Homo sapiens: one gene and its partners. The protein of the gene in region 6 purifies or fractionates together with the protein of the main gene of each other region. This does not show direct contact. Each region holds a gene or a part of one and is shown on either strand. Other genes may lie near its edges.

Region 1 (3,566 bases), on a different chromosome or scaffold from region 6:
TTGGCAGACAGCATCTCCCCCTTCATTTATTCCCTCCCACCTTTAACTAGACCAGTTTTCCCAGCTAAGCACACAAAGAGTTTCTTCTCAGGTTGGGAAGAAGAGGTTGAGGGAAAAGAAGGGGCTGGAGAAGGGCTTTAAAGGGAGGCCCTCATGCAAATATGTCGGGTCCTCTTCATTGCAGCATCGCGGCTGAGTCAGCAGCTCTGGCACAGCTGACCTGCAGTGCTGCCTCCAGCCCAGGAGAGAGGATGGGCCCCTCCCCTAATTTGGCTTGGTTCTACCCAGACTTCAGCCCTGGGAGTTGGGATGGTAAGCTGCCTTCAGTGAAGGGACAGGATAGAGAGGGGCCGTGGAGAAACCTGGCTGAGAGAACTCCACTCAGTGCAGCCTCCCCACACCACAAGCCACAGTCCTGGAGAGGGCGCTTCTCTTCCATGTCTCTACCCAGGATACCCTGGAGAGGCCCCGATCCTCAAACTCAGGACTTATGTTTCCATACCTGTTAGCTGAATGTCTGTAGATCATTCGTTCACCACCACACAATCTCTCTCTCTCTCTCTCTCTCTCTTTTTTTTTTTTTTTTTTTGAGACGGAGTCTCGCTCTGTCGCCCAGGCCGGACTGCGGACTGCAGTGGCGCAATCTCGGCTCACTGCAAGCTCCGCTTCCCGGGTTCACGCCATTCTCCTGCCTCAGCCTCCCCAGTAGCTGGGACTACAGGCGCCCGCCACCGCGCCCGGCTAATTTTTTGTATTTTTAGTAGAGACGGGGTTTCACCTTGTTAGCCAGGATGGTCTCGATCTCCTGACCTCATGATCCACCCGCCTCGGCCTCCCAAAGTGCTGGGATTACAGGCGTGAGCCACCGCGCCTGGCCTTTTTTTTTTTTTGAGACTGAGTCTCACTATGTCGCCCAGGCTGGAGCGCAGTGGCATGATCTCGGCTCACTGCAGCCTCCATTTCCCAGGTTCAAGTGATTCTCCTGCCTCAGCCTCCCCAGGAGCTGGGATTACAGGCGTGCCACTATGCCTAGCTAATTTTTGTATTTTTAGTAGAGATGGGGGTCTCACCATATTGGCCAGGCTGTTCTCGAACTCCTGACCTCAAATGATCCACCTGCCTGGGCCTCCCAAAGTGCTGGGATCACAGGCATGAGCCACCGTATGCAGCCACCACACAATCTCTTATGATTATAGTCAGAGCCCCCAAAAGTGACGGCAGGCTCCAAGCCCAAATGCTGGTGCTCCCTTGACCCATTATCCTGCCTGTCCCTCCCCATCCCCCATCAAGGCAGGGACCAGCAAGGATGTCACATCAGACTGAGAATCCCAGAGGGAAGTAAGGCCTGGATTCCCTTCTTCCCACCCAGTTCCTTTCTACCACCCTGAGGTGAGACAGGAGGAGCTACAATCCTCTTTGGGTGGGTAGTGACAGGTACATAGCTACAGCTCCATGGAGGCTGGCACCCAGGCCCCTTCTAAACTCTGGGAGGGGAAAGCATTACCAGGCCTTCTGTCTCACTGCTGCAGCAGGAGAGACTCTGGAATGCACTTCAGACCAAAGACCTGGCCCTGGTTCCAGGGTGGTTGCTGACTGGCAGCCTGGCATTGGTCCAGCTGCCTGACCTGTGGGGCCAAGGTGTGCCCTTGTGTCCATCCACTGACATAAGATCCAGCGGGTGTGGCTGAAACGATGGCATCATTATGAAAGCAGAGAGGAAGGAATGATGAGAGTAGGGAAGGCCCTCCATTCCCTGGAGGTCCAGAGAATTCCTCTTTGCAAGGACAGGCTTCCAGGCTTCCTGGAGGTATTGAGGTTCTCAGCCAGCTGGAGGGAAAGCCCTATAAGAGTTAAGGAGGAAGACTCTGCCTTGACTCCCAATTCAGGCCCAGATCAGACCTGCCCTAGAAATCCAGGGATCCTCTCTGCCCCTTTCCTGAAACAAGTCCTGTATGATTGGAAGGGGGCGGGGGAGGGGGAGCGTGGCAGGGATGAGGCGAGGCTGGAGGCCAGGTTTCTGGGTCTGCTGATCCTCCCCCACGGGACTGCCTCACCTCCCTCCCTTCTCATCCTCTCTCTCCTCTCGCCCTCCCTCCCGTGTCCCCCACCCGCAGGTGCGGGCCAGTGCTATTGCCCAGGACGCGGACCAGAACTACGACTACGCCAGCAACAGCGTGATCCTGCACCTGGACGCCGGCGACGAGGTCTTCATCAAGCTGGATGGAGGCAAAGCACACGGCGGCAACAGCAACAAATACAGCACGTTCTCTGGCTTCATCATCTACTCCGACTGAGCTCCCCACGTCTCCCTCCACCCACGTCCCTCACCCGCCGGGGTCCCCTCCGGGCGGGGCAGACGATGACTCGCCCCTCGCCCACCCGCTCGCTGCCCGGCCCTCCCCGGCTATGACGCCCCCGGCCCGTGCTCAACACCGCCTGGGCCACAGCTAGGCCCTCCCACCGGCTCGCTGCAGAGCCGGGCCCAGCGCGCCCTGTCCCCGTGCCAGGGAACCGGGGTTGACCGCCCCCGCCCAGCCCGCGCTATATATTTGTACAATAGGACTGTTTACTGCCCACCTCCGCCTGCCAGCCCACCCCAGCCTGGGGAGAGGTCGCGGCGGCGGGTTTGCTTCCTGCGCTCTGAGATGAGCTGCCCTCCGCTCCCTCCGGGGTGGCGCGCCCGGGGGAGGGGGGAGTTGGGGGCTGGATAGCTTCCCAGCACCCTCAGAGCCCCCGCCCGGCTGTGCCCCGTCTGACCAAAGTTATAATAAAAACATTTTCACCCCGCAGGGGTTTCAGTCTGTGCCCTGGGGAGGGCTGCGGGAGGCGACGGTGGACCGTGCCCTCCTCCAGATTAGGAAGGGGTCTGGTGGAAGTTTCTAGGGGAAACCAGGTGCCAGAGCCAGAGCTACTCCAAGAAGAAGTTGCCAAAGGGCCTAAAGCCCACCACAACCCAAGTGGGCCTGGGCAGCTGGGATGGGAAGCAGCCCAGTTACTTCATCATCTTCCATGGTGGACACATTCCTTTTTTTTTTTTTTTTTTTTTTAGACGGAGTCTCGCTCTGTTGCCAGGCTGGAGTGCAATGGCAAGATCTCGGCTCCCTGCAACCTCCGCCTCCCGGGTTCAAGCGATTCTCCTGCCTCAGCCTCCCGAGTAGCTGGGAATACAGGCGCACACCACCACGCCCAGCTAATTTTTGTATTTTTAGTAGAGATGGGGTTTCACCATGTTGGCCAGGCTGGTCTCAATCTCCTGACCTCATGATCCGCCTGCCTCAGCCTCCCAAAGTGCTGGGATTACAGGCGGGAGCCTCGCTGAAAGTGGCATCAGCATTCCACAGGCACAGGTGATCTTTAAACAGGGAGACCTAGGTCCGGCTCTGGGCCACCGTGTATGATCCTGGGCAAGTCACTTCTTTCAACGCAATTTAGGATTAGTGACAGCCATAGAAAGGAACATCCTTTGGACTAAAGGCTGGTTAACCTAGGTCTACGCACTTGACCTCTGTGCCTCGGTTTCCTCATCAATAAACGTAGGAGACCTACCTCACTTGATTGAGGATTCG
Region 2 (4,010 bases), on a different chromosome or scaffold from region 6:
CACTGACCTGAGTTCTGTGGCGACTGTAGAGAAGAATGGAACATGGTTCCTGCTTCCAAACAGCTGCATGCTAGCTAGTAATCACAGTAATGGAATTACCTCTCCATATGCCCCACCCACCCAATCATTGAAGTTAGAATAAATATTTCTCAGTTAATAAATATTAGAATTATTATCCTGGTGTGCTGGCATGCTCCTGTAGTCTTAGCTACTCGGGAGGCTGAGGTAGGAGGATCCTTTGAGCCCAAGAGTTCAAGACCAGCCTGGGCTACATAGTGAGACCCTGTCTCTAAGAGAAATAAAATAAAATTCTGGGACTAAGAATTAGATGAACAGGTAAAACCAGGTCTAGAGGAGGGCAGTGGTGGTGGGGGTGGCTCAGAGTTAGGAGTGCTAATGACACGCAGAGTAGGAGCTATATGGTGAAAGCAACTCTGGTTGGCGACAGGTGCGTGCATAAGAAATGCTGAGAAGAAGACAGCTTTTTTTGTTTTTTTTTTTTCCCCTGTGGGCAATCTCTGAAAATTGATTAGGTTTTCCTCATTCTCCTCTCTACACCAGGGGTCCCCAACCCCCTGCCATGGTACTGGTCTATTAGGAACCAGGCTGCATGGCAGGAGGTGAGCAGTGGGGAAGCGAGCATTACCGCCTGAGCTCTGCCTTCTGTCAGATCAGCCTTGGCATTAGATTCTCATAGGAGCACAAACTGTATTGTGAACTGTGTATGCAAGGGATCAAGGTTGCGTGCTCCTTATGAGAATCTAACTAATGCCTGATGATCTGAGGTGGAACAGTTTCATCCAAAACCATCTCCCCCACACTACCCATCCATGGAAAAATTGTCTCCCATGAAACTGGTCCCTGGTGCCAAAGAGGTTGGGGACCGCTGCTCTATACTTTAAGAGAAGAGGGTGATGTCCAGGAAGCAGTGGAGACCTTCGACCAGATGGGGTACACTAGAGGAAAAACAAGGCTTTGGGAGGCCATGACTAGTTAGAGACATTAGGCCTAGAAAAGCTTGTGAAATTTTTTTCACTCGTTTTATTTTATGTTTACCATTGAACATTTATTTTCTCAGATATGTTCCAAATCTACAAGCTGTCATTTCCTTCTGAGCCCTGTATACACTCTACCCGGCACCCAGCTCCTGACCCTATCTAGTGCTGTCTGGAGAAAATATCCCCTATTTTTCCTCACCCTGCCATTCCCAGAACAACCTGTAGTCCTAGCCCTGGTAAAGTGGCTGATAGAAACCACTTAGGAACATATTAATGTGTCCTTGAAAACTCAAAGTGGAAAGAGAATGGAGAGGAATCATAAAAGGAAAGAAGGGGAGGGGAGAATAAGCATAAAAGGTCATATTTGTGGCAGCAGGCATATAGTATCAAATGTATTTTGTTCTTTTTTCCCCAGGTATCTGTTTAATTTTCGAGGCGTAGCTGCAAGTTTCCGGTTTAAACACCTCTTCCTGTGTGGCTCACTTGTTTTCCATGTTGGTGATGAGTGGCTAGAATTCTTCTATCCACAGCTGAAGCCATGGGTTCACTATATCCCAGTCAAAACAGATCTCTCCAATGTCCAGTAAGCAGTTATCCCCCAATGCAGAGTTTCTAAAGACCCTTCCAATCTGCTTTTAAAAATGCCTTAATGCCTTAAAACCAGTCATGTAAGACATTTAGTCCTACGATTTTTTTCCATTGAAAGCTTTTTTTCCTCTTGGTTTGCATATATAGTATTGCATTATTATCCAAGTAGGCTATAAGTGGAATTTAATTTGAAAAAGCGCTTTAATACTGGTTTCAAATGAAACGTTCAGACAAAATGAAGTTAAAAAGCTCTAATCTCTCCAAGACTAAAGATAGGGATATTCAATCTTATTATATTGTCAAAAGGATTTTCAGATACAGCATGAGAATTGACTCAAGTGAAGCTTCAGCAAATTTCCTTTCATGACAGGAGGAGCTAGGAAGAAGTATAGAGAAGGGCCAGAGTTATCTGAATATTGTTATCATGGTGATATCTGTGTATATATATTTTTTTTCTATATATAAATATATTTATATATAAATATGTAAAATAATATAAATATCTAATATAATATATAATATAAATATACAAAATATATGTAAATATATAAGGTAACTTCTGTATTTTCTCAAATATGTCCCAAATCTACAATAGGGTATCTTTAATCAGTGTGTGGGGGTTTTTTTTTGTTATTATTTTGTTCTTGAGAGAACCCTGATATCTTTGCTTGAAGGAAATAATCCACCATCCACATACCTAAAATTATCCATAGACCTCAATCTATATCGTCTTTCTGACTTAGTGCCAATGAAGTTGGTCTATATTTCACAGTCTAAAATTCTTTTCATTTTAGAGAGCTGTTACAATTTGTAAAAGCAAATGATGATGTAGCTCAAGAGATTGCTGAAAGGTGAGTTCTGTTCATTTTCCCTTTTCCACTTTACTTTTTGTCATCCCCATTATGCCCTAGCCAAAGTTATCTGAATATTGTTATCATGGTGACATCTGTATTTTATCCTCATTATATGGAGATAATTCAGAACTAAACCTGTCCTGGGGGAAAACATACACACATGTCTACATATGCTTGTTTTAAAGGAAAAAGATGGGCCGGGCGTGGTGGCTAACGCCTGTAATCCCAGCACTCTGGAAGGCCGAGGTGGGCGGATCACCTGAGGTCAGAAGTTCAAGACCAGCCTAGCCATGGTGAAACCCCATCTCTACTAGAAATACAAAAAAATTAGCCGGGTGTGGTGGTGCGTGCCTGTAATCCCAGCTACTCGGGAGGCTGAGGCAGGAGAATCACTTGAACCCGGGAGGCGGAGGTTGCAGTGAGCCAAGATCGCACCATTGCGCTCCAGCATGAGCAACAAGAGCGAAACTCCGTCTCAAAAAATAAATAAATAAATAAATAAATAAAGGAAAAAGATTGTTAAGTTGTATTGCTACATGCATGTATGTGGATATGATTGCCATAGGGTTGGTTCTTGAGGCTCAAATGAATTAATTTATATAAAATGCTGAATAATGCTTGGCACAAGGTGAGCACTCAAATGCAGACTGCTATTATCATTAAATTCTGTGCTTTAACATTTTCTTGTTAAATCTTGTCTCTAGGGGAAGCCAGTTTATTAGGAACCATTTGCAGATGGATGACATCACCTGTTACTGGGAGAACCTCTTGAGTGAATACTCTAAATTCCTGTCTTATAATGTAACGAGAAGGAAAGGTTATGATCAAATTATTCCCAAAATGTTGAAAACTGAACTATAGTAGTCATCATAGGACCATAGTCCTCTTTGTGGCAACAGATCTCAGATATCCTACGGTGAGAAGCTTACCATAAGCTTGGCACCTATACCTTGAATATCTGCTATCAAGCCAAATACCTGGTTTTCCTTATCATGCTGCACCCAGAGCAACTCTTGAGAAAGATTTAAAATGTGTCTAATACACTGATATGAAGCAGTTCAACTTTTTGGATGAATAAGGACCAGAAATCGTGAGATGTGGATTTTGAACCCAACTCTACCTTTCATTTTCTTAAGACCAATCACAGCTTGTGCCTCAGATCATCCACCTGTGTGAGTCCATCACTGTGAAATTGACTGTGTCCATGTGATGATGCCCTTTGTCCCATTATTTGGAGCAGAAAATTCGTCATTTGGAAGTAGTACAACTCATTGCTGGAATTGTGAAATTATTCAAGGCGTGATCTCTGTCACTTTATTTTAATGTAGGAAACCCTATGGGGTTTATGAAAAATACTTGGGGATCATTCTCTGAATGGTCTAAGGAAGCGGTAGCCATGCCATGCAATGATGTAGGAGTTCTCTTTTGTAAAACCATAAACTGTGTTACTCAGGAGGTTTCTATAATGCCACATAGAAAGAGGCCAATTGCATGAGTAATTATTGCAATTGGATTTCAGGTTCCCTTTTTGTGCCTTCATGCCCTACTTCTTAATGCCTCTCTAAAGCCA
Region 3 (4,010 bases), about 16 Mb from region 6:
TACATTCATACCTTGCCATGGTACCAAAAATGGACTCAATGGAGGCAAAAGGGGAAGCTGAGACACTGATTAGGAAAGAGCTATGGCAATCCTGGCAAGAACTGATGATGGCATGGACTAGGTTTGTGGCAGCAGAGACGGAGAGGAGTGGACCAATTCAAGACAATTTTGGGGAAGAGTATCAACAACACTTGTTGAAAGACAGGAATCAGGATTTCTGGCTTAAGCAATGGAAAGGAAAAAACACAGTTGTAGAAAATTGGTTGGAAGTAAAACAGGGAGAGGAACTGAGTTCCACAGTGCACATGTTAAGTTTGAAATGTTAAAACAGAGATGTCAAAGAGACTATTGGATATGTGACTCTGGAGACTCAGAAGAGAAGTCTGGACTGAAAACATAAATTTGAGAGTCATCAGGACATATAGATATGAACTGTGCATGAAATTATAGATGAGTCACCTAGGCAGAAAGAAAATAAAAAAAGTTTACAGTTCCAAACCTTGAGAGTTGGGTAAAAAAAGAGCCCACAAAGATTACTGTGAAGCAGCAGCCAATAAAAAAAGGAAACTAAAAAACCATAGTAACACAAAAGGAAAGTCTTTCAAGGAGCAAATGACCCACACAGCCAAATGCTGAGGAAAGGGCAAGTAAGATGGCAGAAAGCACTGGCCCCTTAACAGAAATAACTCTGGCAGAGTGGAAGGCTAACTTCAAGTTAAAAGTTAGAGATAGCTATTTATGCCACACACGAGAGAAAAGAAACAATAGCAGAGGATATATAGAACATTCTTCCCTGCAACTTGCACCAGGAATATTCTCAATGTCCTCTCTTGTGGCTGTAAGGGTTAAGTAGGTTTAAGTTGTTTGGAATAAAACAGACATGTTGGTGCACAGGTAATGAATGCAAACACAAAAGGATCAGCCTAAAATGAAGCATTGAGTGAGAAGGAAAAAAAGTATCTGTCTTGTGTTTGATAAATCTGAATGCCTCTAAGAGGAGGCTGCTTAACACCTCTTCTTATAAATCTATGACATACGCATTATTTTAAAAATCATGCCTGCATACTTAGAAAAATACAAACACTGTAGTCCATGAGAAAAGTCCAAAACTGCTTTTGAAAATATATTTGTGATCTGAACTCTAGTAATGATTTCTGCACATCTGTGCTAACTGGCTTTGTTCTATCAGCCAAAAATATTCTTTGGAAAAAAAAAAAAAAAGTCTGATAGGAGAAATACCAGGACAAGGATTGGGTGGAGTTAAAGGAGAGAGAAAATCAGCCAACATACAATCTGGAGACAATTAGACCAACATTAGCCCAGGAACAGTCAGAGTTCGAGTCTGCTTGCAAACATTTTATGCCAAGAGAAAAAAATTCAACAAATAAATCATTAAAGTAAATAAAGTAAAGGACAGTGCTAGGGAGCTAGAGTTAATGAGAATTCTTGGAGTAAAGATCAGTTCTGGGTGACATCTTATATAGGGTGACCATCCTTTCTCATTTATCCAAGACAGCAGTACTGGTATTCTGATGTAATTATTACTAGCACTACCTTTCCTTCTTAAGAGTGTCCCAGTTTGATAGAACATTATATGGTCATACTATTTATATGCCACACATTTCTATGACTGAAAAAATATAAGCAGTTAATTACTAAATGATAGGCTAATACAATATTATAAACTATGGGATTAGAATCTACTCATTTTTTATTTGAACCATGTCTCATAGCTCTCCTTAGAAAAAGAAACATAAAGTAAGCTGCATTAAAAAAAATGTATAGGTATCACGGCTGAAAATAGATAAAACATCTAAAATTCAGTTCAGAACACAGAACAAAGTAATATTAGGTGCTTTCAAATGTTTCACAAACATTTTTTGGTATCTTTTATTCAGTATTTATACTGATAAAATCAAGAACATCAAATTAATGGACTGACATTTATTTAAATCTCTCAAGTTGCTGAAAAATATTTCAAAGGACTTGCATGGAATCAAGAATCCATAATCTTTCCTGGGTTGTTTTTTGGTTTTTTTTTTTCCCCAAGACCAGTAACCCAGATTATTCACTCAATGGTGACTTTGGAGAAGGGAGGGAAAAAATAGCTTGCATCCCATGTACTACTCTGAAAGCTGATAAATTTCAGCCAGAAAGTCATTCAGACTTTTAGTTTGAACTAGTATGATCAGACTACTATGCTTTCTGGGAGCCACCATGTTATCTTATGCTAATGTGGAAGGCTTCTACTTGCTGCAGTTAGTGCAGAATAAATAATATTCTTGTAAAGCTTACCTGAACTGTAATTTCAAGCATTCAATCCATAACTTGTTCTATTCTTTAGCAAGACGCTATCTCAACTCTCGTAAATCCAAAGGCTATTAGATTTAAATTTAATTTTTGATGGATCTTATGTGGACACTAACAGAATTCAAAATTATAGAACACGTAGGGCAAACCTGCACAAATTACTTATGAAAATTAAATATACTATTAAACTCTACCAATATTCAGGGGCACCGTTAAGAGATCATCAAGGTGAATATTTTAAGAAGTATGATGAATTTTGGCATGTAAAAAAGCAGGAAATGCTATGTTTTCCAACATTATGACATCTATCATTGCTATGTTGCGTTGCAGCTACTGCCATAAAATCCTTTGGGTCCTCCACTGACTTGGCATACTGTACTCCACAAAAATAACAGTTTTTTCAGGAAGGCTAAGTGGAGACAAGCCTGCAGGATTGTGGTGATCATCTTTCAACAGTATGGATGTAACACAGTAAAAATCAGGAAGAAAGATTGCCCTCAACCTACAAATCCTTAAAGAGATAAAAGTAAACAAATCTGTAATAATTTTCAAGCATTATACTGTGCAATAGTTACCATACTGTGACCTCCCTTTGCCTTGTTAGTCAAGGACCTGGCTCCATTTGGCTCTAATACAAATTCTAAATAACACAGGGAAATGTTTATCAAAAAGTATACAACTATAAAAATGTCCACTATACCTTCTTCTAGTTAACATAATATAGAAATTGCATTTTTATACAATTAAAGCCTTTTGCTATTGACAAGCAATATGGAAATTTATCAAGTCATTATTAAATTGCAACAAGGGAGGGATTCAACAAAGATCACAATAAATGAGTATAAATGATTTTACCTAATGACTGCAAATAGGTTCAATCATGTTATTCCACCATATCATATCCATCCACAGGTGAGACAGTAACAAATATTAGATGTATTATATGTATAAACACATGATAGATAAAATAATTATTAAAGACATTATATATAATATGTATATATTTCAATATGTATATTAATGCACACAAACTGAGATTTTAAGATTACATCTCTATAGGAATTTTAAAACTACAAAAGGTTTCAAAGTAAATTTAATTTTACAATATTAAAAGTAAAATGTATTAATGGTTTCAGTAATTTATGTGTTCTACTACTCAAAATATACACGAACAATTTAGATGCAATGTTATACTACAGATAATTCTCTTGTTTCAGCTTCATTAAATCACTTAGGCCAAAAGATAGATGCATGCCATCTTACCTGTAGCTGTTTTTCTGGATAATACCATCTGATGTGTCCTGTGCCTCTTTAGCAGAAAATCCTAGAAGGTGCCTCCTTTGATTTGCAGGGCTCACACTAGGGTTCATTCTCCTGGAATCCTGTTCCAACATGCTGAAAATAAAAAACAGGAAATAATAGCTGAAATAAAAATATGTCACACATATGCCTGCTACATGCAGCTGTGAAACAAACCACAATTCCTTTGCAGATCCATGCACGTAACAAAAATGCTAGGCATAGACGCAAGTACAAATAGGGTACTGAAGGTGTTCAAATCCTTAGCATGGTAACCTGCACATATCAAAAACAATTTTTCTAAGTATAAAAGTACCTTATTTATAAACTGTTTAAACAATAGTAGTGTTCTATATGTTTTAAAAACTTGATAATTACATGTATATATGAAGTAGAAATAA
Region 4 (4,010 bases), on a different chromosome or scaffold from region 6:
GGAGGCAAGGGCAGCTGAGTGCTGCTTAGACCTGACAGGGGCTCAACAGCTACTTGGTGGATGATTAAGTACACTCGCATCCTGGGTAGAAACCTTTTTCCTAAGTGGAGTTATTAAACACTATTGCTTCGTCCTTAGTAGTCTTACAGCTGCCTATAAGGGCTTTAAGTTTTGAAAACAAAGCAAGATAGTAATTTTAAACATACAGGGAACCTAAAGCACTTTTAATTTTTTACATTAGCGTGCATAAGTTGTGTCATTTTACTAGGCACATAGAAGAGTTCTCAACTAGAGAGAAGCACTGTAAACTTTAGGGGGAAAGCTTTTGTGTCTTAGACTAAGAAATCATGGCATATTAACAAAACCTTCCCCTTCACCTCACACATTTTTTTTGCAGAGTGCATTATACCTTTTACGGGGTACTATTTTTTTTTTTTTAATTGCCCAGGCTGGAATGCAGTGGCGCAGTCTCAGCTCACTGCAACCTCCACCTCCCAGGTTCAAGCGATTCTCCTGCCTCAGCCTCCCAAGTAGCTGGGATTACAGCCGCGCGCCACCATGCCTGGCTAATTTTTTTGGTATTTTTAGTAGAGATGGGGTTTTACCACGTTGGCCAGGCTGGTCTCAAACTCCTAACCTCAGGGGATCCACTCTTCTCAGCCTTCCAGAGTGCTAGGATACAGGCGTGAGCTATGGGATACATTTTTCTTTTCTCTTTTTCTTTCTTTTTTTTTTTTTGAGATGGAATCTTGCCCTGTCACCCAGGCTGGAGTGCAGTGGCACGATATCGGCTCACTGCAAACTCTGCCTCCTGGGTTCAGGCTATTCTTCTGCCTCAGCCTCCTGAGTAGCTGGGACTACGGGTGTGTGCCACCATGCCCGACTAATTTTTGTATTTTCAGTAGAGACGGGGTTTTACCATGTCGGCCAGGCTGGTCTGGACCTCCTGACCTCGTGATCCACCTGCCTCAGCCTCCCAAAGTGCTGGGATTACAGGCTTGAGCCACTGCATCCGGCCGCTGTGGGGTACATTTTTCTAAAGCTCCTTTTTATCGTGAAATAATTCATACGTACAAATAAGAATGTTGGGTGGACACTAGCAGCATTTGCTTCAGATTCCTTTTTTGTTAATTTTGTTTTTTGGCTTGAGATCTTTTTTTTTTTTTTTTTGAGATGGAGTCTCACTCTGTCATCCAGGCTGGAGTGCAGTGGTGTGATCTCAGTTTACTGCAACCTCTGCCTTCTGGGTTGAAACGATTCTCCTGCCTCAGCCTCCCTGAGTAGCTGGGATTACAGGCGCCCACCACCATACCTGGCTAATTTTTGAATTTTTTTTTTGAGATGGAGTCTCGCTCTGTCGCCCAGGCTGGAATGCAGTGACGCGATCTCGGCTCACTGCAAACCCCGCCTCCTGGGTTCACGCCATTCTCCCGCCTCAGCCTCCCCAGTAGCTGGGACTACAGGTGCCCGCCACCACACCCAGCTAGTTTTTATATTGTTAGTAGAGACGGGGTTTCACCGTGTTAGCCAGGATGGTCTCAATCTCCTGACCTTGTGATCCGCCTGCCTTGGCCTCCCAAAGTGCTGGGATTACAGGCATGAACCACCGCGCCCAGCCTAATTTTTGTATTTTTAATAGAGACAGGGTTTAACCATGTTGGCCAGGGCAGTCTCAAACTCCTGACCTCAAGTGATCTGCCCGCCTCCCAAAGTGCAGGAATTACAGATGTGAGCCACCGTGCCTGGTTTGAAATCTTCTTTTGAAAAAGAAAACGTTACAGATAAGATTGAAGGTTGATCTTACTTCTTCCCTTCCAGCAATAATTGCAACTATAAATTCATTCTCTATTTTTTAAAAGGGTTTTCTTGTCCTTATTTGACAGAATAAGATAGAGAATTAAAAATCCAGATAATCATCTTTGTTGCAAAGCGGCAAAGAAAAATCATCCTTATTAATGATTAAAAGTTGACCAGGAGTGGTGGCTCACACCTGTAATCCCAGCACTTTGGGTGGCTAAGGCTGGCAGATCACTTGAGGTCAGGAGTTTGAGACCAGCCTGGCCAACATGGTGAAACCCCGTCCCTAATAAAAATACAAAAAAAAAAAAAAAGTTGGGCGTGGTAGTGCATGCCTTTAATCCCAGCTACTCAGGAGGCTGAGGCAGGAGAATAGCTTGAACCCAGGAGGTGGAGGTTGCAGTGAGCCAAGATTGCACCATTGCACTCCAGCCTGGGCAACAAGAGCCGAAACTCCTTTAAAAAATAAATAAATAAATAAAATAATTAAAAGTTGTGAGGTGGGGGAGATTCCTACCCCGCCCTCATACCTTATTGTCTAAATCACCAAAGACATTCTGAGCACCTGAGCCGGTATGATTCTTGGCCAAGGGTCTGTGAATATGAGTTCAGCTTTAAAGCAGCAGGTTATACGTGAAGAGGGGGCAAGATTGAAAAGTCTCTTTCCTGAAGGTTTAAGTGGGCCCTTCCTCTGAATCGTAATCTCTAGAGGAGGGGCTTAAGGACTTTGGAGTTTTAAACTGGTGGTTCTTATGGTCAGGCAAATGGTTTAGGGGTGCTTGTTCTTAAACTTGTCTAATTATAAGCATCACCTGGAAAGTTTCTGAAAACTGCAAATGCCTGGGTTTCATATTCAGCTTACGAAATCAGCATCTCTGTAGGCAAAGCACTAACAGAACTTTCCAAGCGAGTCAGATCATTAGCCACTTTGGGGAAACCTCTGATTGTGGGATGCTCAAACTGACTCATTTCCACTTCACAAATTTCCCCCAAAGTGCAATAGGAAAAATAAAATGGATCTTTTTTATGAAATTGACTTATGGTACACTGTGGTGGCAGGGGGCAGTCACCACCTGCTGATGGTGATGTTCTGGATCCTACCCCTCTTTTTTCTGCAGTTGCTGTTCTCTGTGTCTGTGACTTATCCCCAGCACAGTGTGACATCAACTGCTGCTGTGATCCCGACTGCAGCTCCGTGGATTTCAGTGTCTTTTCTGCCTGCTCAGTTCCAGTTGTCACGTAAGTTTACGTATGACACATGCAATTTTGAAAAAATTTGACCAGGATAATACAATTTGGAGAAAGGGAAAACTTTCCCAGGCTTAAAAACCCAAACCTGATTTCCAGTGTTTTACGTCGTTCTGAAGCCATACCGTCCAAACAAATATGTAAAAAAGTAGCTATCCCTGGCAGGGCGCAGTGGCTCACGCCTGTAATCCCAGCACTTTGGGAGGCTGAGGTGGGTGGATCACGAGGTCAGGAGATTGGGACCATTCTGGCTAACACGGTGAAACCCCGTCTCTACTAAAAATCCAAAAAAATTAGCCGGGCATGTTGGCGGGCACCTGTGGTCCCAGCTACTCGGGAGGCTGAGGCAGGAGAATGGCGTGAACCCGGGAGGCAGAGCTTGCAGTGAGTGGAGATTGCGCTACTGCACTCTAGCCTGGGTGACAGAGCGAGACTCAGTCTCAAAAAAAAAAAAAGTAGCTATCCCTTATTTGCATTCAGCCAGGTGACTGTGCAGGCAAAAGAGAAGAGAGAATATACATTAAAATAATGTAATGAAACCTCTGTGTTTGAAGATTGAATTACATTTCAATTTGAGTTGTAGACAGTGGTCACATTTTTTGTATCAGTGAATTAGTATAGCCTAGGGTGAAAAGTGCATTTTAATTTCACAGCTTTTGTTGTGGACATAGTATTTGTAACAAAAAATTAGATAAGAAATCTGTACTTTTCTGATATGTAAATCTACCAGGAATTCTCACAGTTCGCATTGTATAGAACAATGAAAAATGACATTTCCAGCTGATTATAAGGTAAATAAATAATCTGTTCTGAATGATCTCTTATAATTGAGGTTTCAAGGCTTCTTTTTTTTTTTTTTTTTTATGAGATGGAGTCTCGCTCTGTTGCCCAGGCTGGAGTGCAGTGGTGTGATAGTGGCTCACTGCAACCACCGCCTCCTGGCTTCAAGCAATTCTCCTGTCTCA
Region 5 (4,633 bases), on a different chromosome or scaffold from region 6:
TTTAAAGGGTAGAGACATGCTGGAGTCCAAGCCTCAGTCCTGAAGAACAGTGCAATGGGTGAACAAATGCTGCCTGGCAAGGATGGGGTTGGGAGGTCTATAGTTCCCAAAGAATGTCCACTCTAGTTGCCTCCTCTCTAGGTGGGCTCCAGGCATTTCCAAAATAAAGAATATACAGGAGCCAAATTAAGGACAGGTCCTTCATACCTTGTTTATAAGCCCAAGAGGGCAATTTCTGCCCTTCGGTTCCCAGGAACACGGTTGGAGAAGGCAGCCCAGGGGAGGCCAGAAGAGCAGTATTTGGAGTGTGATTTCTTGGATGCCAAAGCGTTCAAACTTCTGGGACCCCCTCCTATCCCTGCCATTCCCAGAAGGAACAGAGAATCTCCCAAAGCACTCTCAGGAGCCATCTGGCCTAATCTTCCATTGGTAAGCCGTGGCACCTGGATCAGATAGAGTAAGGGACTAAGCCACACAGCAACAGGACCAGGCCAGGTCTCCGGAACCCCCTTCTGTTGTTCAATGCTTACTGGCTTCTCTGCCTCACAGTGACCCCTGTCCCATATCAAAGACAGCCCCCAGTTTCATTTTATCCATGTGTACACTCAAGTTATTCCCAGGCTATGCAGAGCCAAGAGATGTAGGACAGAAACCATACGTGATGTCTGGGAAGTTGATCTCTCCCAGGATCTCACAAGTGCTTTTCAGCTCAGGGATACACCCCACTCTTCAGACTGGGAAAGTAAGCCCCTGAGGTGTGCCACGAGGGAAAAGGTGCAGCTCCAGTGCCTCTCTTCGCAGGCCCAAGAGCTGCGGTGCACCTGGGACCTGGAATTAGAGAGTGGTCCCTGTTCAGCATCTCCCCGAGGAGGCCCACCAACAAAGAGGGTGTGTCTTTTTTTTTTTTTTCTTCCTATTGAGGGTGTGGGATAATGGTGGAAGGAACATGCAAAGAGGGTGTGTCTTAATTAGCACTGGCTTTAGGGAACAAGGAAAAGGGAGAACCCGGGAGTACGGGAAGGAGGCTGGGGCAGACAGGAGTCAGAGGCCCATTCCAGCCCAAACGAGAAGCCAGTGAGCAAGGTGGAGACCAGGGATGCTGTGACCAAAGCAGAGAGGAATGGGCGGGGTGGTGCTGACACCCCAGCCCCGTTCTGCCTGCCAGAGCCCCACTTACCAGGCCCGAGTCCCCAGAGGTCCCCTCCTACTCCCTGCTCGATTCCCTTCCTCAGAGGCAGGTCTGTGGCTTGGCTGGGAACTCCAGGGACTGAGGGAGCACTGCAGCTGTGGGACCGGCGCATAGCTAAAAGCCGGCGGGCCATAGGGCCCCGCGGAGGAGGCCCCAGCAGGCGGACCAGGAGGCCGAAGCCTCCCGACGCTCCCAGCCTGTTGCTTATTCATTCAGAGTGGGAAAGCGCCAGCCGAGCGGCCAGCCAGTGCGGGGCTGGCCATGTAAGGCCCACAGGCGGTCCTGCCCGCCCGGTGCCCTGCGGAGAGCCTCGTGCAGCCCTGGGCACCGCCCCTGCCCTGCCCTGACCCCTTGGCCTTGAAATGCTGTCATCGGAGGAGCCGTCCCGCTCGGGACAAGGCCAGCATGGACAAAGCTAGAGCTGGGGCAAGCAAGGAGCCTTCCTGTCCTCGAGGCCGTGGGAAGAGAAGCACGCCCAGGGGGCCACTCCTGAGAGCCTCTCTGTCCACCAGGCCTCTGCAGAGGGGTCACCATGGCTCTGGCCCGAGGCAGCCGGCAGCTGGGGGCCCTGGTGTGGGGCGCCTGCCTGTGCGTGCTGGTGCACGGGCAGCAGGCGCAGCCCGGGCAGGGCTCGGACCCCGCCCGCTGGCGGCAGCTGATCCAGTGGGAGAACAACGGGCAGGTGTACAGCTTGCTCAACTCGGGCTCAGAGTACGTGCCGGCCGGACCTCAGCGCTCCGAGAGTAGCTCCCGGGTGCTGCTGGCCGGCGCGCCCCAGGCCCAGCAGCGGCGCAGCCACGGGAGCCCCCGGCGTCGGCAGGCGCCGTCCCTGCCCCTGCCGGGGCGCGTGGGCTCGGACACCGTGCGCGGCCAGGCGCGGCACCCATTCGGCTTTGGCCAGGTGCCCGACAACTGGCGCGAGGTGGCCGTCGGGGACAGCACGGGCATGGCCCGGGCCCGCACCTCCGTCTCCCAGCAACGGCACGGGGGCTCCGCCTCCTCGGTCTCGGCTTCGGCCTTCGCCAGCACCTACCGCCAGCAGCCCTCCTACCCGCAGCAGTTCCCCTACCCGCAGGCGCCCTTCGTCAGCCAGTACGAGAACTACGACCCCGCGTCGCGGACCTACGACCAGGGTTTCGTGTACTACCGGCCCGCGGGCGGCGGCGTGGGCGCGGGGGCGGCGGCCGTGGCCTCGGCGGGGGTCATCTACCCCTACCAGCCCCGGGCGCGCTACGAGGAGTACGGCGGCGGCGAAGAGCTGCCCGAGTACCCGCCTCAGGGCTTCTACCCGGCCCCCGAGAGGCCCTACGTGCCGCCGCCGCCGCCGCCCCCCGACGGCCTGGACCGCCGCTACTCGCACAGTCTGTACAGCGAGGGCACCCCCGGCTTCGAGCAGGCCTACCCTGACCCCGGTCCCGAGGCGGCGCAGGCCCATGGCGGAGACCCACGCCTGGGCTGGTACCCGCCCTACGCCAACCCGCCGCCCGAGGCGTACGGGCCGCCGCGCGCGCTGGAGCCGCCCTACCTGCCGGTGCGCAGCTCCGACACGCCCCCGCCGGGTGGGGAGCGGAACGGCGCGCAGCAGGGCCGCCTCAGCGTGGGCAGCGTGTACCGGCCCAACCAGAACGGCCGCGGTGAGTACGGCCCCGGCGCCCCTCCGGCCGCGCGTACCCCTGGCCACTGGAAACTGCTCCGGGCCCCCCGGGCCCCTCCTTAGAACTTCCTGGAGGCCTCCCCGGAGCTGCTAAGCACGGAGCAGCGCCCCCTCCCGACTTCCCCCGACCCAGCCAACAGCACCCCCCTGGCATCTCACCTCCCAGCTTAACCCGCACCCAGGCATCATCAGTGCCAGGGGTTGGCCAGGCAGGTGTGGGCTCTGATCCTGGCTTTGGTGGAGGGACTAGCCGAGCTTTGGGAGGAGGCTCGCCTTCTGCACTTGGCTTGGGTCATCTGAGGACAAAAGGAAGGAGCCCCTCATCCACCTTCTCCCTCATTTCAATGAGGGCATCTCCTTCCCCCCTTAGAGATGTTCTATGCCAGCTCACAGGGTGAGGCAAGGAGCATCAGAAACCTGAGTCTTCAGGGCCAGAAAGGCCTTAAGGGATGCCCCTGGAGGTGTGGCAGGCTGCCCATTACTGGGCATGTGTGAGGTTGGCTTGAGTGCGCAGGAGGTTAGAGGGGAGCGTGTGCTCCAGGCAGGAGTCCGGACTTCCTCAGGGGAGTCTGCAAGGCTGGGGCAAGAGAGACCAGTCAGGCACTGGCCTGGGTGCAGAATTTCAGGGGCTACCAAAAAACACAGTAGTTGAGATGAGTAATATTGAGATGTATTTTTTTAAGTCAAAATTAATGCAAAAAAAAAAAAAAAAAAAAAAAACCTGTGATAAAGGAAATATCCAGATTTTAAATAGAGTCAGTAATAGTGGTATGCCGAGCCATATTGGAGCCTGAGGCTAACTGAAAAATCAGCAACACGGATCCTGTCTTTATTTGATATTTGGATATTTTGTTCATTACAGATAGTTTTGCATTAATTTTTATTTTAAAAACTATTGTGTTAAATATTACTTATCTCCGTTACTGAGTTTTTTTGGCACCCCCTAAAATTTTGCACCCCGAGGAAAAAAAAAAAAAAACACCTCACTGGCCTCATTCCCCTCACCCTAGTCCTGGCCCTGGCGGAGAGCCCCAGCTGTGGACAGGACTCCCTCTGGCTTTTCAGGGGGTGAACATACGTCCTCCTCTTGGGAAGGCCCAAGCCCTCTGCACATGAGGACACAGTGGAAAGGCAGCTTCCACACATGCTGTTAGCAGACAGGGCTACTGTGACAAGGGCTGACTGGTGGGTGTGGCCAGTGCTGGACGGCCATCAGCCATTCTCTGCTGTCCTAGAATCCCCCTCCCTGCTACCCTCTCCATACAGGCAGCTTTTGGGCCAAGGTTTTCTACTCAGTCCCCAATACTTATGCAGTCCAACTCTGCCTTGCCTCTTTCAAGCTGTCGTCAGTTTCCTCTACCCATAATTCTCTGCTCCCCATTGAGGTTGCTGTGCCTGGCCCACCAAGTAAGGGCTGACTGAGCCCTCCAGTGCCTCAGAGTATAGGTGCTAGTGCCCCAGCCTCCTCCTCAGCCTCTGTCAGCAGAGGGATGATGCTTTGTCTCCAGCCAAGCTGACCTCAGTGAGGGGCTGCTGCTCATGGGGTGCCTGTCTCCCTGGGTACTGCTGGAGGCCAAGACTAGGGGAGAGGAGCGTCTCCACTGGGAACACTCACTCTATCACATCCAAGGTGTCGCTTTTGAGTTGTGTGCTGAATCCCACTTTAAGAACCTGCAGGAGCTCAGGAAAAATCAGATGGCAGGTCCTTCTGTGGTGTGATGAAGGATGCATCCACCTGCTCTGGTCCTTACCAGGTACTTGCAGCATCCCTGCAGAAGGGCGCATTATAG
Region 6 (3,800 bases):
AAAGAGCCGTAAGCACCCCAAGCAATGAGGGTGCTATTATATTTCTGCCACCTTGGTTATTCTCCAGGAGGAGAAGGTTGGAAAGGATGTCCAGGGGGAGAGAAAAATGTTACTCAAGCCCTGGCTATCCACAGGAAAGTTCAAACCAGTTTCACTGATCCAAAGGCACTAAGGAGGAAGACAGATAAATCAGACTTTTCAATGGGTAGGAGGTAAGACTCATTAGGAATGAAGGCCTGTGAGAGAGGCAAGTTAGTACAACTACCTCTACTCACTGCATGAACAGAGGGCTACAAGTTGAAGCAACAGATTTTCAGCTATTAGAGGAAGAAAAGGCAAGAGACAGACTTGGTTTGGAGATGGGTTTTGAACAATGCGGCTCCTCAGCAAAGGCTGATGGCCAGATTGAGTATATTAAACACATGTAGCTGAGTCCTCTGAAAACCATTTACCAATATAGATTAGCGTTTTCCCTATTAGATAACAAAAAGTGAAACTTCCAATAATTTGTCATAACGTTTTTGCATAACAAGCAACTGATTCAGGTTTTTGCCTGGCCTTGGCATTCTTAACTCCATTTTATTTAGGCATTCCTCAAATCAATAACTACCACTGTTTTGAATGGCATCAGAATGTAAGCTCTATATATATGTAAGGACTTTGTCTTCTTTACCCCAACGAAAAGTCCCACACATATGGCAGGCTCTTAATAAATTTGTTAAAAAACCTGTATGATGAATCAGATGCTTTACACATGATGATTCTAACCTTATACAACCCTTGCAAGCAAACATCCCCTGGTTACTCATCAGGAAACAGACACAAGGAAGTTAAATAGGGCCTGGTGCGGTGGCTCACGCCTGTAATCCCAGCACTTTGGGAGGCCAAGGCAGGCAGATCCTTTGAGCCTAGGAGTTTGAGGCCAGTCTGGGCAACATGGCAAAACCCCAACTATACAAAAAAATACAAAAATTAGGCATGGTGGCACACAACTGTAGTCCCAAGCTAAGGCATGAGGATCACCTGAGCCCAGGCTGGTTGAGGTTGCAGTGAGCCATGATCATGCCACTGTACTCCAGCCTGGGTGACAGGGTGAGACACTTTCTCAAAGGAAAAAAAAAAAAAAAAAGAGTTAATTGTTGCCCGTCACAGCAATTAATACAGATCCTTCTCACTCTAAAACCTTACACTCAGTAATGATCTACTATATGCAAAGCACCTCTTACATCCTTCACCACCCCATTCATTCTGAGATTGACTCCTCCCCTTTCCAGAAACAGGACCACCTAAACATTCCCTATTCCAGTCCCTTATTTGCAAGTCATCAAAAGAAAACAGAGATTTCAAAAAGAAAACAGAGACCTTATCTGTAATCCTTGGTAAGGATCTTCCAAATTTAAGCCTATGCCAGTTTTCAGGAGGAAACATGAATATGAAACAGTCTGACCTTTAGACATAATTTTTTGTTGACTTTAAATTCCCTTGGTTAGGCCACTGTAACCAGTAAAATAAATTTTATTTTAGAATAAAAATTATAAAGGGGAAATTGAGTCTAGCCATACAACCTACTACTAGTTACTATCTTTGATTCCCAAGTCATCCTAGAGCAAAAAAAAAAAAAAAAAAATCATCTCTGGCCTTTTTTTCCTTTTCCACTCAGGTGAAGAGAATGAGCTTTTGAATCCAATTTTTTGTTTTCTCCTATATTCAATTCAAGTAGCTTTAAAGTTAACCAAAGGAAAAAACCAAAGCTCAATATTTGATTAAACGAGAAAATATACACTACTTAGAAGCTTTCTTTTCTTTATCCTTCTTCCCCAACTCAAGGCTTAGTAGAATTATTGAAAGAGGTAGTATTCAGTAGAATAGTACACATGCTTTTTCAGGTCCAGAAACACCACATAGGTCAAGTTATCATGCTTACATGTGGGGAAAAGGAGGAGGGAGTTTCCTGGACCTCTGTGCCTCTCTCAGCTCATGAACTAGTTTCAGTGAATATCCTTGTCTTACCACTGTGCCAACAATTCAGAGCTATACGTGGAAAACCTACCTTCAACTTTTTGAGTGGCATCTATTGCTTCTTTGATTGTTCCTTCCAGCAAGGAGCGATCAAAGGCTAGCCCCCTTCCCACTCCCACCAGAATCAGATTTGCTCAAGATTACAACCCTAATTTAGTAATAAGATGCAATACATAAAATAGTTCCCACTTTCCTTTTCCAATCCCTTTACAGTCATGAGGGCCTATCACGCACGCATCTCAGGACAGGTGAGACTTCATTATATCAGGTATTTTGTTGCTATTCTAAGTTATAAGGCAGTAATACAAACTTTCTTTCCACAGCTTTGTAAGCCTTGTGCCAAAAGAAACTTTTAAAACAGCTACAGCAAGATGAGTCTGACTATGGCTTAGTATCTTTCTCATTACAATAGGCACAGAGAAGAATGCAACAGGGCACAGGGGAAGAGATGCTAAATATACCAAGAATCTGTGGAAATATAAGCTGGGGCAAATCAGTGTAATCCTTGACTTTGCTCCTCACCATCAGGGCAAACTTGCCTTCTTCCCTCCTAAGCTCCAGTAAATAAACAGAACAGCTTTCACCAAAGTGGGTAGTATAGTCCTCAAATATCGGATAAATATATGCGTTTTTGTACCCCAGAAAAACTTTTCCTCCCTCTTCATCAACATAGTAAAATAAGTCAAACAAAATGAGAACACCAAATTTTGGGGGAATAAATTTTTATTTAACACTGCAAAGGAAAGAGAGAGAAAACAAGCAAAGATAGGTAGGACAGAAAGGAAGACAGCCAGATCCAGTGATTGACTTGGCATGAAAATGAGAAAATGCAGACAGACCTCAACATTCAACAACATCCATACAGCACTGCTGGAGGAAGAGGAAGATTTGTGCAGACCAAGAGCACCACAGACTACAACTGCCCAGCTTCATCTAAATACTTGTTAACCTCTTTGGTCATTTCTCTTTTTAAATAAATGCCCATAGCAGTATTTGGAGTCTTTTCTTTTCTCCTAAATCCACAAACTCTCTTCTTTCTCTTTGGACAGATGACCTCTTGTCATAGTTAAGCAGAGAGTGGGCAGGATATTCCTGATAGGAGGAACTACATGAATAAAGGGGTAAGAGCACAGAAATTTAGCTACAGCTCCATGGTGAGCCATTAAAAGGAAAGAGACACTTTACCTGTGCTCCTTGGCAAGGACCTGCCAAATGTGGGAGCTAAGGTTTGTGGGAACGGAAAGAGATATGGCTGAAGTAGATGAGTAAGACTCTTATTAGTGATAGTCTTGAACCTCAAACTAAGGATTTTAGACTGTATCCCATGGAGATAAAAGGACTAGCCATGGAGGCAAAAAGACCTGGATTCAAATTCTGGCTCTGCAACATACCAGCTATTTGTCATTGGGCAAATGAATTTTTTTTTTTTTTTTTTGAGACGGAGTCTCACTCTGTTGCCCAGGCTGGAGTGCAGTGGCATGATCTCAGCTCACTGCAACCTCCACCTCCCGGGTTCAAGCAATTCTCCTGCCTCAGTCTCCCAAGTAGCTGGGATTACAGGCATGCACCACCATGCCTGGCTAATTTTTGTGTTTTTGGTAGAGACGGGGTTTCACCATGTTGGCCAGGCTGGTCTCAAACTCCTGACCTCAAGTGATCCACCCGCCTCAGCCTCCCAAAGTGCTGGGATTACAGGCGTGAGCCACCTCACCCAGTGCAAATGAGGTTTTGAGATGCTATTTCTGTTTACCTATCTGTAAAAAGGGATATTGCCTATTGTA
Region 7 (4,010 bases), on a different chromosome or scaffold from region 6:
CCCAGTATGTTACATAATAAGGAGAACTGGGGGATGCTCCTGGGGTAATAGTAGCTGCTGTTATCCAGGGGCCAGCCAGTGTTCACTCCAAGTAGAACCAAACTCATTGGAAAAGATAATGGCATCTCAGCAAGTAACCTTGAAAGCTTTTTATGCTTATTTTTAAAATAGTAATTATTTATTGTGTACTCATTGTGTCTCAGGAACTATGCTAAGCATTTTGTTTTCATTTTCTCATTTCATTCTCTGGATGGTCCTATGAGGGCGTTTCATTATCCTCACCATTTCACAGATGAGGACATTAAGATTCAGAGAGCAAGTAACTCTCTCAGTCACTCAGGCGTTAAGAGACAGATTCCACATACAAGCCCTGCTCTGCCTGATGTCAAAGCCTGTACTGTTAACCCCTCTCTCTATACTGCTCCATGCTTAGATAACTGGCCTATCATTTGTGTTCCAGTTTGATGAAGGTTTGCATGTTTATTTCTTTTATTTTAAATTCTAAGGTGACTGGGTATGATCAGTGATCAGAGTTGGTGGCTTATAGCATGATCTTCTACTCATCAATGTTAAAAATCAAGATAATCGGTTATTACTAATCTTTGCTATAAGGAAAATGCAATTTTAAAAGTTCTTGTATGGCTTAGTTTTCATTGCTCTGCTCTGAATGAGCTATATAATGGGTCTTTTTGCTTCTTTCTCTGTTCTTCAGTGTCACTTATTCCTTCAAGATGTGCTGACTACCATGTTTTAGGAACAGAGCTGGAGGCTAGGGATACAGGAATAAGATTTGATCTCTGATCTCAGTATGCCCACAGTTTGGTGGGGATACAGAGGAACAAAGAAAGCATATTTCTCTTTCTCTGAGTTTTAAGGTCAGAGTGGGAATGAATTACTTAGTCCTATGAGTAAATCAATAAACTTGAATTTAGAGTGATAATACTTGCTGGTTTTACACTTACTTCTGTGCCTTTGGCAGGAGAGAGGCAAATATTGTTGATTATGTGAATCTGGCACTGTTTGGGAGGATATGCTCAAGAGGCTTGTATGGTAATGACAAAGAATTACATAAATTGGAACTATTTTGGATATAATTTTTTTCAGGAGTCTCACAACTCAAGAAAGAAACGGGAAATTACTGAAAAACAGATAGATGATAACAGAAAATTTTCTTTATTTGCTGAAAGAAAATACCAGACTCTTGTAAGTATTTTTCAAGAGCTGTGAATATTTGAGAGGATGAGGGGAAGGATTTCTTCAGAACAATGTCTTTTGATGACCATTCTTCTTTTTCTCTCTAGAACTGTAGCGTGAACGTGAACTGTGTGAACATCAGATGCCCGCTGCGGGGGCTGGACAGCAAGGCGTCTCTTATTTTGCGCTCGAGGTTATGGAACAGCACATTTCTAGAGGTATGACCTTGGCTTGAGGCTGTCCCATGGAAGTAATTTGCCTTTGCCTAGGACACTTTTCACTTCCCTAATGCATTCACTGTCTCCAAACAGGAATATTCCAAACTGAACTACTTGGACATTCTCATGCGAGCCTTCATTGATGTGACTGCTGCTGCCGAAAATATCAGGCTGCCAAATGCAGGCACTCAGGTGAGAGGTTCCCCAGCTTCATTCAGGTTCAGAACATGTCTCTTTTCCCTGTACCCCACACTCATGTCCTGAAGTCATGTGCTTTGGTGCTCATTTCCCTCATAGCCCCATTACGGAGAAAACTGTCTTAAGGTACTGGCACTGCAAGCTGTATTTTAATAGAATCATTGAAAAAAAGAAGTAAATCTAGGGTCATCCAGTTCAGCAGTGCCCATGGTAGGTTTGAGAACTACTGGCTCAATTCAGAGAATGGGTGCACCTCACAGCCCTCTAGAAACCTGTGTCTTCTACCATCTCTAATGCTGCAGCCATTGGTGTAATGCCCCAGTGATGGCCCATCCCTTGGCCAGCTGTAATTATTAAAAAAGATCTCTTCATAGCTGACTCCTGAACTGAACCTTGTAAGTCCCTGGTTATGCCCCTCAAACAAGTCTAAAATAAGTTCTCTCTCTTGGCCATGTAGCAGCCTCTCAAATAATTGAAGGAAATGGTCATGCCTCCTTGGATGTTTCTTATTCTTCTCAGAGCTTATGCACCCAGCTCTTGAGTTATGCGTCACATTGGGCACAGCTGAACTGGCTCCTGGCCTCTCCCTTCCTGGGCAATTTGATTCCCACGTGGACAGAGCAGCTGAGGTGGGGTCTGCTTGGTCCCACTTACCCTGGGGCCTTTACCTCTCAGCATCTCGGCACCACACTTCTGTCAGACCTGCCTAAAATTTGCTTTTTCAAACCATTGCTGAGCAGCATGTTTGAATTTCTAGCAGCTGCTATTTTTGTGTTAGTGTTCTACTGAAACTTCCAGGTGTTTTCATCAGAATTTGTTGTCAAGCTGTGTTTCCAGTATCCTGTCCTTGAGCTATTTGTAAAAATCTAAATGTATGCCTTTAAGTGTATCCTTACATTTTATGTGATTTGCTTTGGGTCCATTGTTTCAGTTTGCAAAGTAATTCTGAATCTTGCTTCATCATTTGCTTTCTCAACTTTCTATCCCTGAAAGTTTTAAAAACTGAGAAGCATGTTCTCTATGTCTTCATCCAGGTAATGACAAATATGTTGAATAGGACTAGGTGTAGAACCTTGTAGTGAACCAATAGTGAGGGGTTCCCTGTGGGAGTCTAGAACCCACAGGGACTTGTATAAAGATCTCGAGGCAGAATGACTGCATGTCATGGTGGGAATAATGAATGGGAATGTTTTGCAAAAGAGACTGGAGAAAGAAATACTGTGAATTACTGTTCTTAAGTTAATCTGCCAGTCTACTTATGGAAATGTTCTGGCTTCAGTCATTTAGCTAGCTGAAAATTCAGGGAGCCTCCCTAATCATTCTGTTTTCTGAAATATAGCAGTCCTTACGATTTATTATCCAAGCAAGAATACATTTTTGTTTTTATTTAGTTTTTTGAGATGGAGTCTTGCTCTGTTACCCAGGCTGGAGTGCAGTGGCGCAAACACAGCTCACTGCAGCCTTGAATGCCTGGGCTCAAGCAATCCTCCTGTCTCACCTCCTGAGTAGCTGGGACCACAGGCATGCCACCACGCCCAGCTAATTTTTCAGTTTTTTTTGTATAGCCAGAGTCTCACCATGTTGCCCAGGCTGGTCTTTAACTCCTGGACTCAAGCAATCCGCCTGCCTCAGCCTCCCAAAATGCTGGGATTATAGGTGTGAGCCACTGCACCCAGCCCCAGGATACATTTGCCTGAGACAAATGCTGTACTGGGCAAGCTGCTGCGATAAGTGGTATCAACCAGCACTGTCCCGGTCTCTCCAGGACATATCAACAGGCATCATAAGGGACTTTCAAATAAACCACACCTTCCCTAAGGATCCTTTCTCTGCATCTATAAAGGCAGCAGGTATAGCTTTCTATAACTGTAAATCAGCAACTCTGAAAATCACTGAGATTTCAGAGCTAGACAGAGAACACTTTAGAGGGAAGGGACTAACATTAATGAAGCCTTAATAAAATGTCTGCAGCTTACTAGATACTTTATACTCTATCATTCAAACTTCAGAAGAATGCCAAGGGTAAACATTGTACTCATTTTACAAACAAGGAAGCAGACTCAGAGAGGGGATATAATTTGAGACCCTCAATTGAAACCTGTAATTGTCTGACTTCAGGGCTTCTGTTCTTTGACTCTGTGGCACTTGGTCCCCTTAAAGTCCCCAAATCTCAAATTGAGATAAGAAAACTGAATCCAAGGAAAGGTATCTCCCCGTCAGGGTCACCCGACCAGCAAGTAGAGCTGAGACCAGACCTTGGGTCTGATGTCTCCTCTTCAAGTGCTGTCTTCTTCTGGAAGATGATGGAACTCTGGGGGCCCTGGTGTCCAGTCTGATGACTGGGTCACAAATGAAAGTGAGGTTCTCTTGGGCATTTTATGTTCTTAGAGCTTGGAGAAC

The links.
Region 1: the proteins of CD160 (region 6) and C1QL1 purify together in Homo sapiens (affinity purification with mass spectrometry; one large-scale study listed by BioGRID and IntAct). This does not show direct contact.
Region 2: the proteins of CD160 (region 6) and POGLUT1 purify together in Homo sapiens (affinity purification with mass spectrometry; one large-scale study listed by BioGRID and IntAct). This does not show direct contact.
Region 3: the proteins of CD160 (region 6) and ATF6 purify together in Homo sapiens (affinity purification with mass spectrometry; one large-scale study listed by BioGRID and IntAct). This does not show direct contact.
Region 4: the proteins of CD160 (region 6) and TCTN1 purify together in Homo sapiens (affinity purification with mass spectrometry; one large-scale study listed by BioGRID and IntAct). This does not show direct contact.
Region 5: the proteins of CD160 (region 6) and LOXL1 purify together in Homo sapiens (affinity purification with mass spectrometry; one large-scale study listed by BioGRID and IntAct). This does not show direct contact.
Region 7: the proteins of CD160 (region 6) and ITGA6 purify together in Homo sapiens (affinity purification with mass spectrometry; one large-scale study listed by BioGRID and IntAct). This does not show direct contact.

Annotation. Positions count from the first base shown.
Region 1 is NC_000017.11:44,958,916-44,962,481, reverse strand, and holds the end of C1QL1 (C1q-related factor precursor), read left to right. Parts: intron 1-2,114; coding exon 2,115-2,294; 3' UTR 2,295-2,789; downstream 2,790-3,566. UniProt on the Homo sapiens protein: May regulate the number of excitatory synapses that are formed on hippocampus neurons. Has no effect on inhibitory synapses.
Region 2 is NC_000003.12:119,489,138-119,493,147, forward strand, and holds part of POGLUT1 (protein O-glucosyltransferase 1 precursor), read left to right. Parts: intron 1-1,413; coding exon 1,414-1,581; intron 1,582-2,380; coding exon 2,381-2,437; intron 2,438-3,144; coding exon 3,145-3,301; 3' UTR 3,302-4,010. UniProt on the Homo sapiens protein: Dual specificity glycosyltransferase that catalyzes the transfer of glucose and xylose from UDP-glucose and UDP-xylose, respectively, to a serine residue found in the consensus sequence of C-X-S-X-P-C.
Region 3 is NC_000001.11:161,846,144-161,850,153, reverse strand, and holds part of ATF6 (cyclic AMP-dependent transcription factor ATF-6 alpha), read right to left. Parts: intron 3,706-4,010; coding exon 3,574-3,705; intron 1-3,573.
Region 4 is NC_000012.12:110,616,921-110,620,930, forward strand, and holds part of TCTN1 (tectonic-1 isoform 1 precursor), read left to right. Parts: intron 1-2,915; coding exon 2,916-3,036; intron 3,037-4,010. UniProt on the Homo sapiens protein: Component of the tectonic-like complex, a complex localized at the transition zone of primary cilia and acting as a barrier that prevents diffusion of transmembrane proteins between the cilia and plasma membranes.
Region 5 is NC_000015.10:73,925,063-73,929,695, forward strand, and holds the start of LOXL1 (lysyl oxidase homolog 1 preproprotein), read left to right. Parts: upstream 1-1,399; 5' UTR 1,400-1,721; coding exon 1,722-2,823; exon of another isoform or gene 2,824-2,898; intron 2,899-3,002; exon of another isoform or gene 3,003-3,186; intron 3,187-4,633. UniProt on the Homo sapiens protein: Catalyzes the oxidative deamination of lysine and hydroxylysine residues in collagen and elastin, resulting in the formation of covalent cross-linkages, and the stabilization of collagen and elastin fibers.
Region 6 is NC_000001.11:145,736,144-145,739,943, forward strand, and holds the end of CD160 (CD160 antigen precursor), read left to right. Parts: coding exon of another isoform or gene 1-158; exon of another isoform or gene 159-2,342; coding exon 2,343-2,350; 3' UTR 2,351-3,145; downstream 3,146-3,800.
Region 7 is NC_000002.12:172,489,920-172,493,929, forward strand, and holds part of ITGA6 (integrin alpha-6 isoform b preproprotein), read left to right. Parts: intron 1-1,104; coding exon 1,105-1,203; exon of another isoform or gene 1,204-1,301; coding exon 1,302-1,412; exon of another isoform or gene 1,413-1,505; coding exon 1,506-1,604; exon of another isoform or gene 1,605-4,010. UniProt on the Homo sapiens protein: Integrin alpha-6/beta-1 (ITGA6:ITGB1) is a receptor for laminin on platelets. Integrin alpha-6/beta-1 (ITGA6:ITGB1) is present in oocytes and is involved in sperm-egg fusion.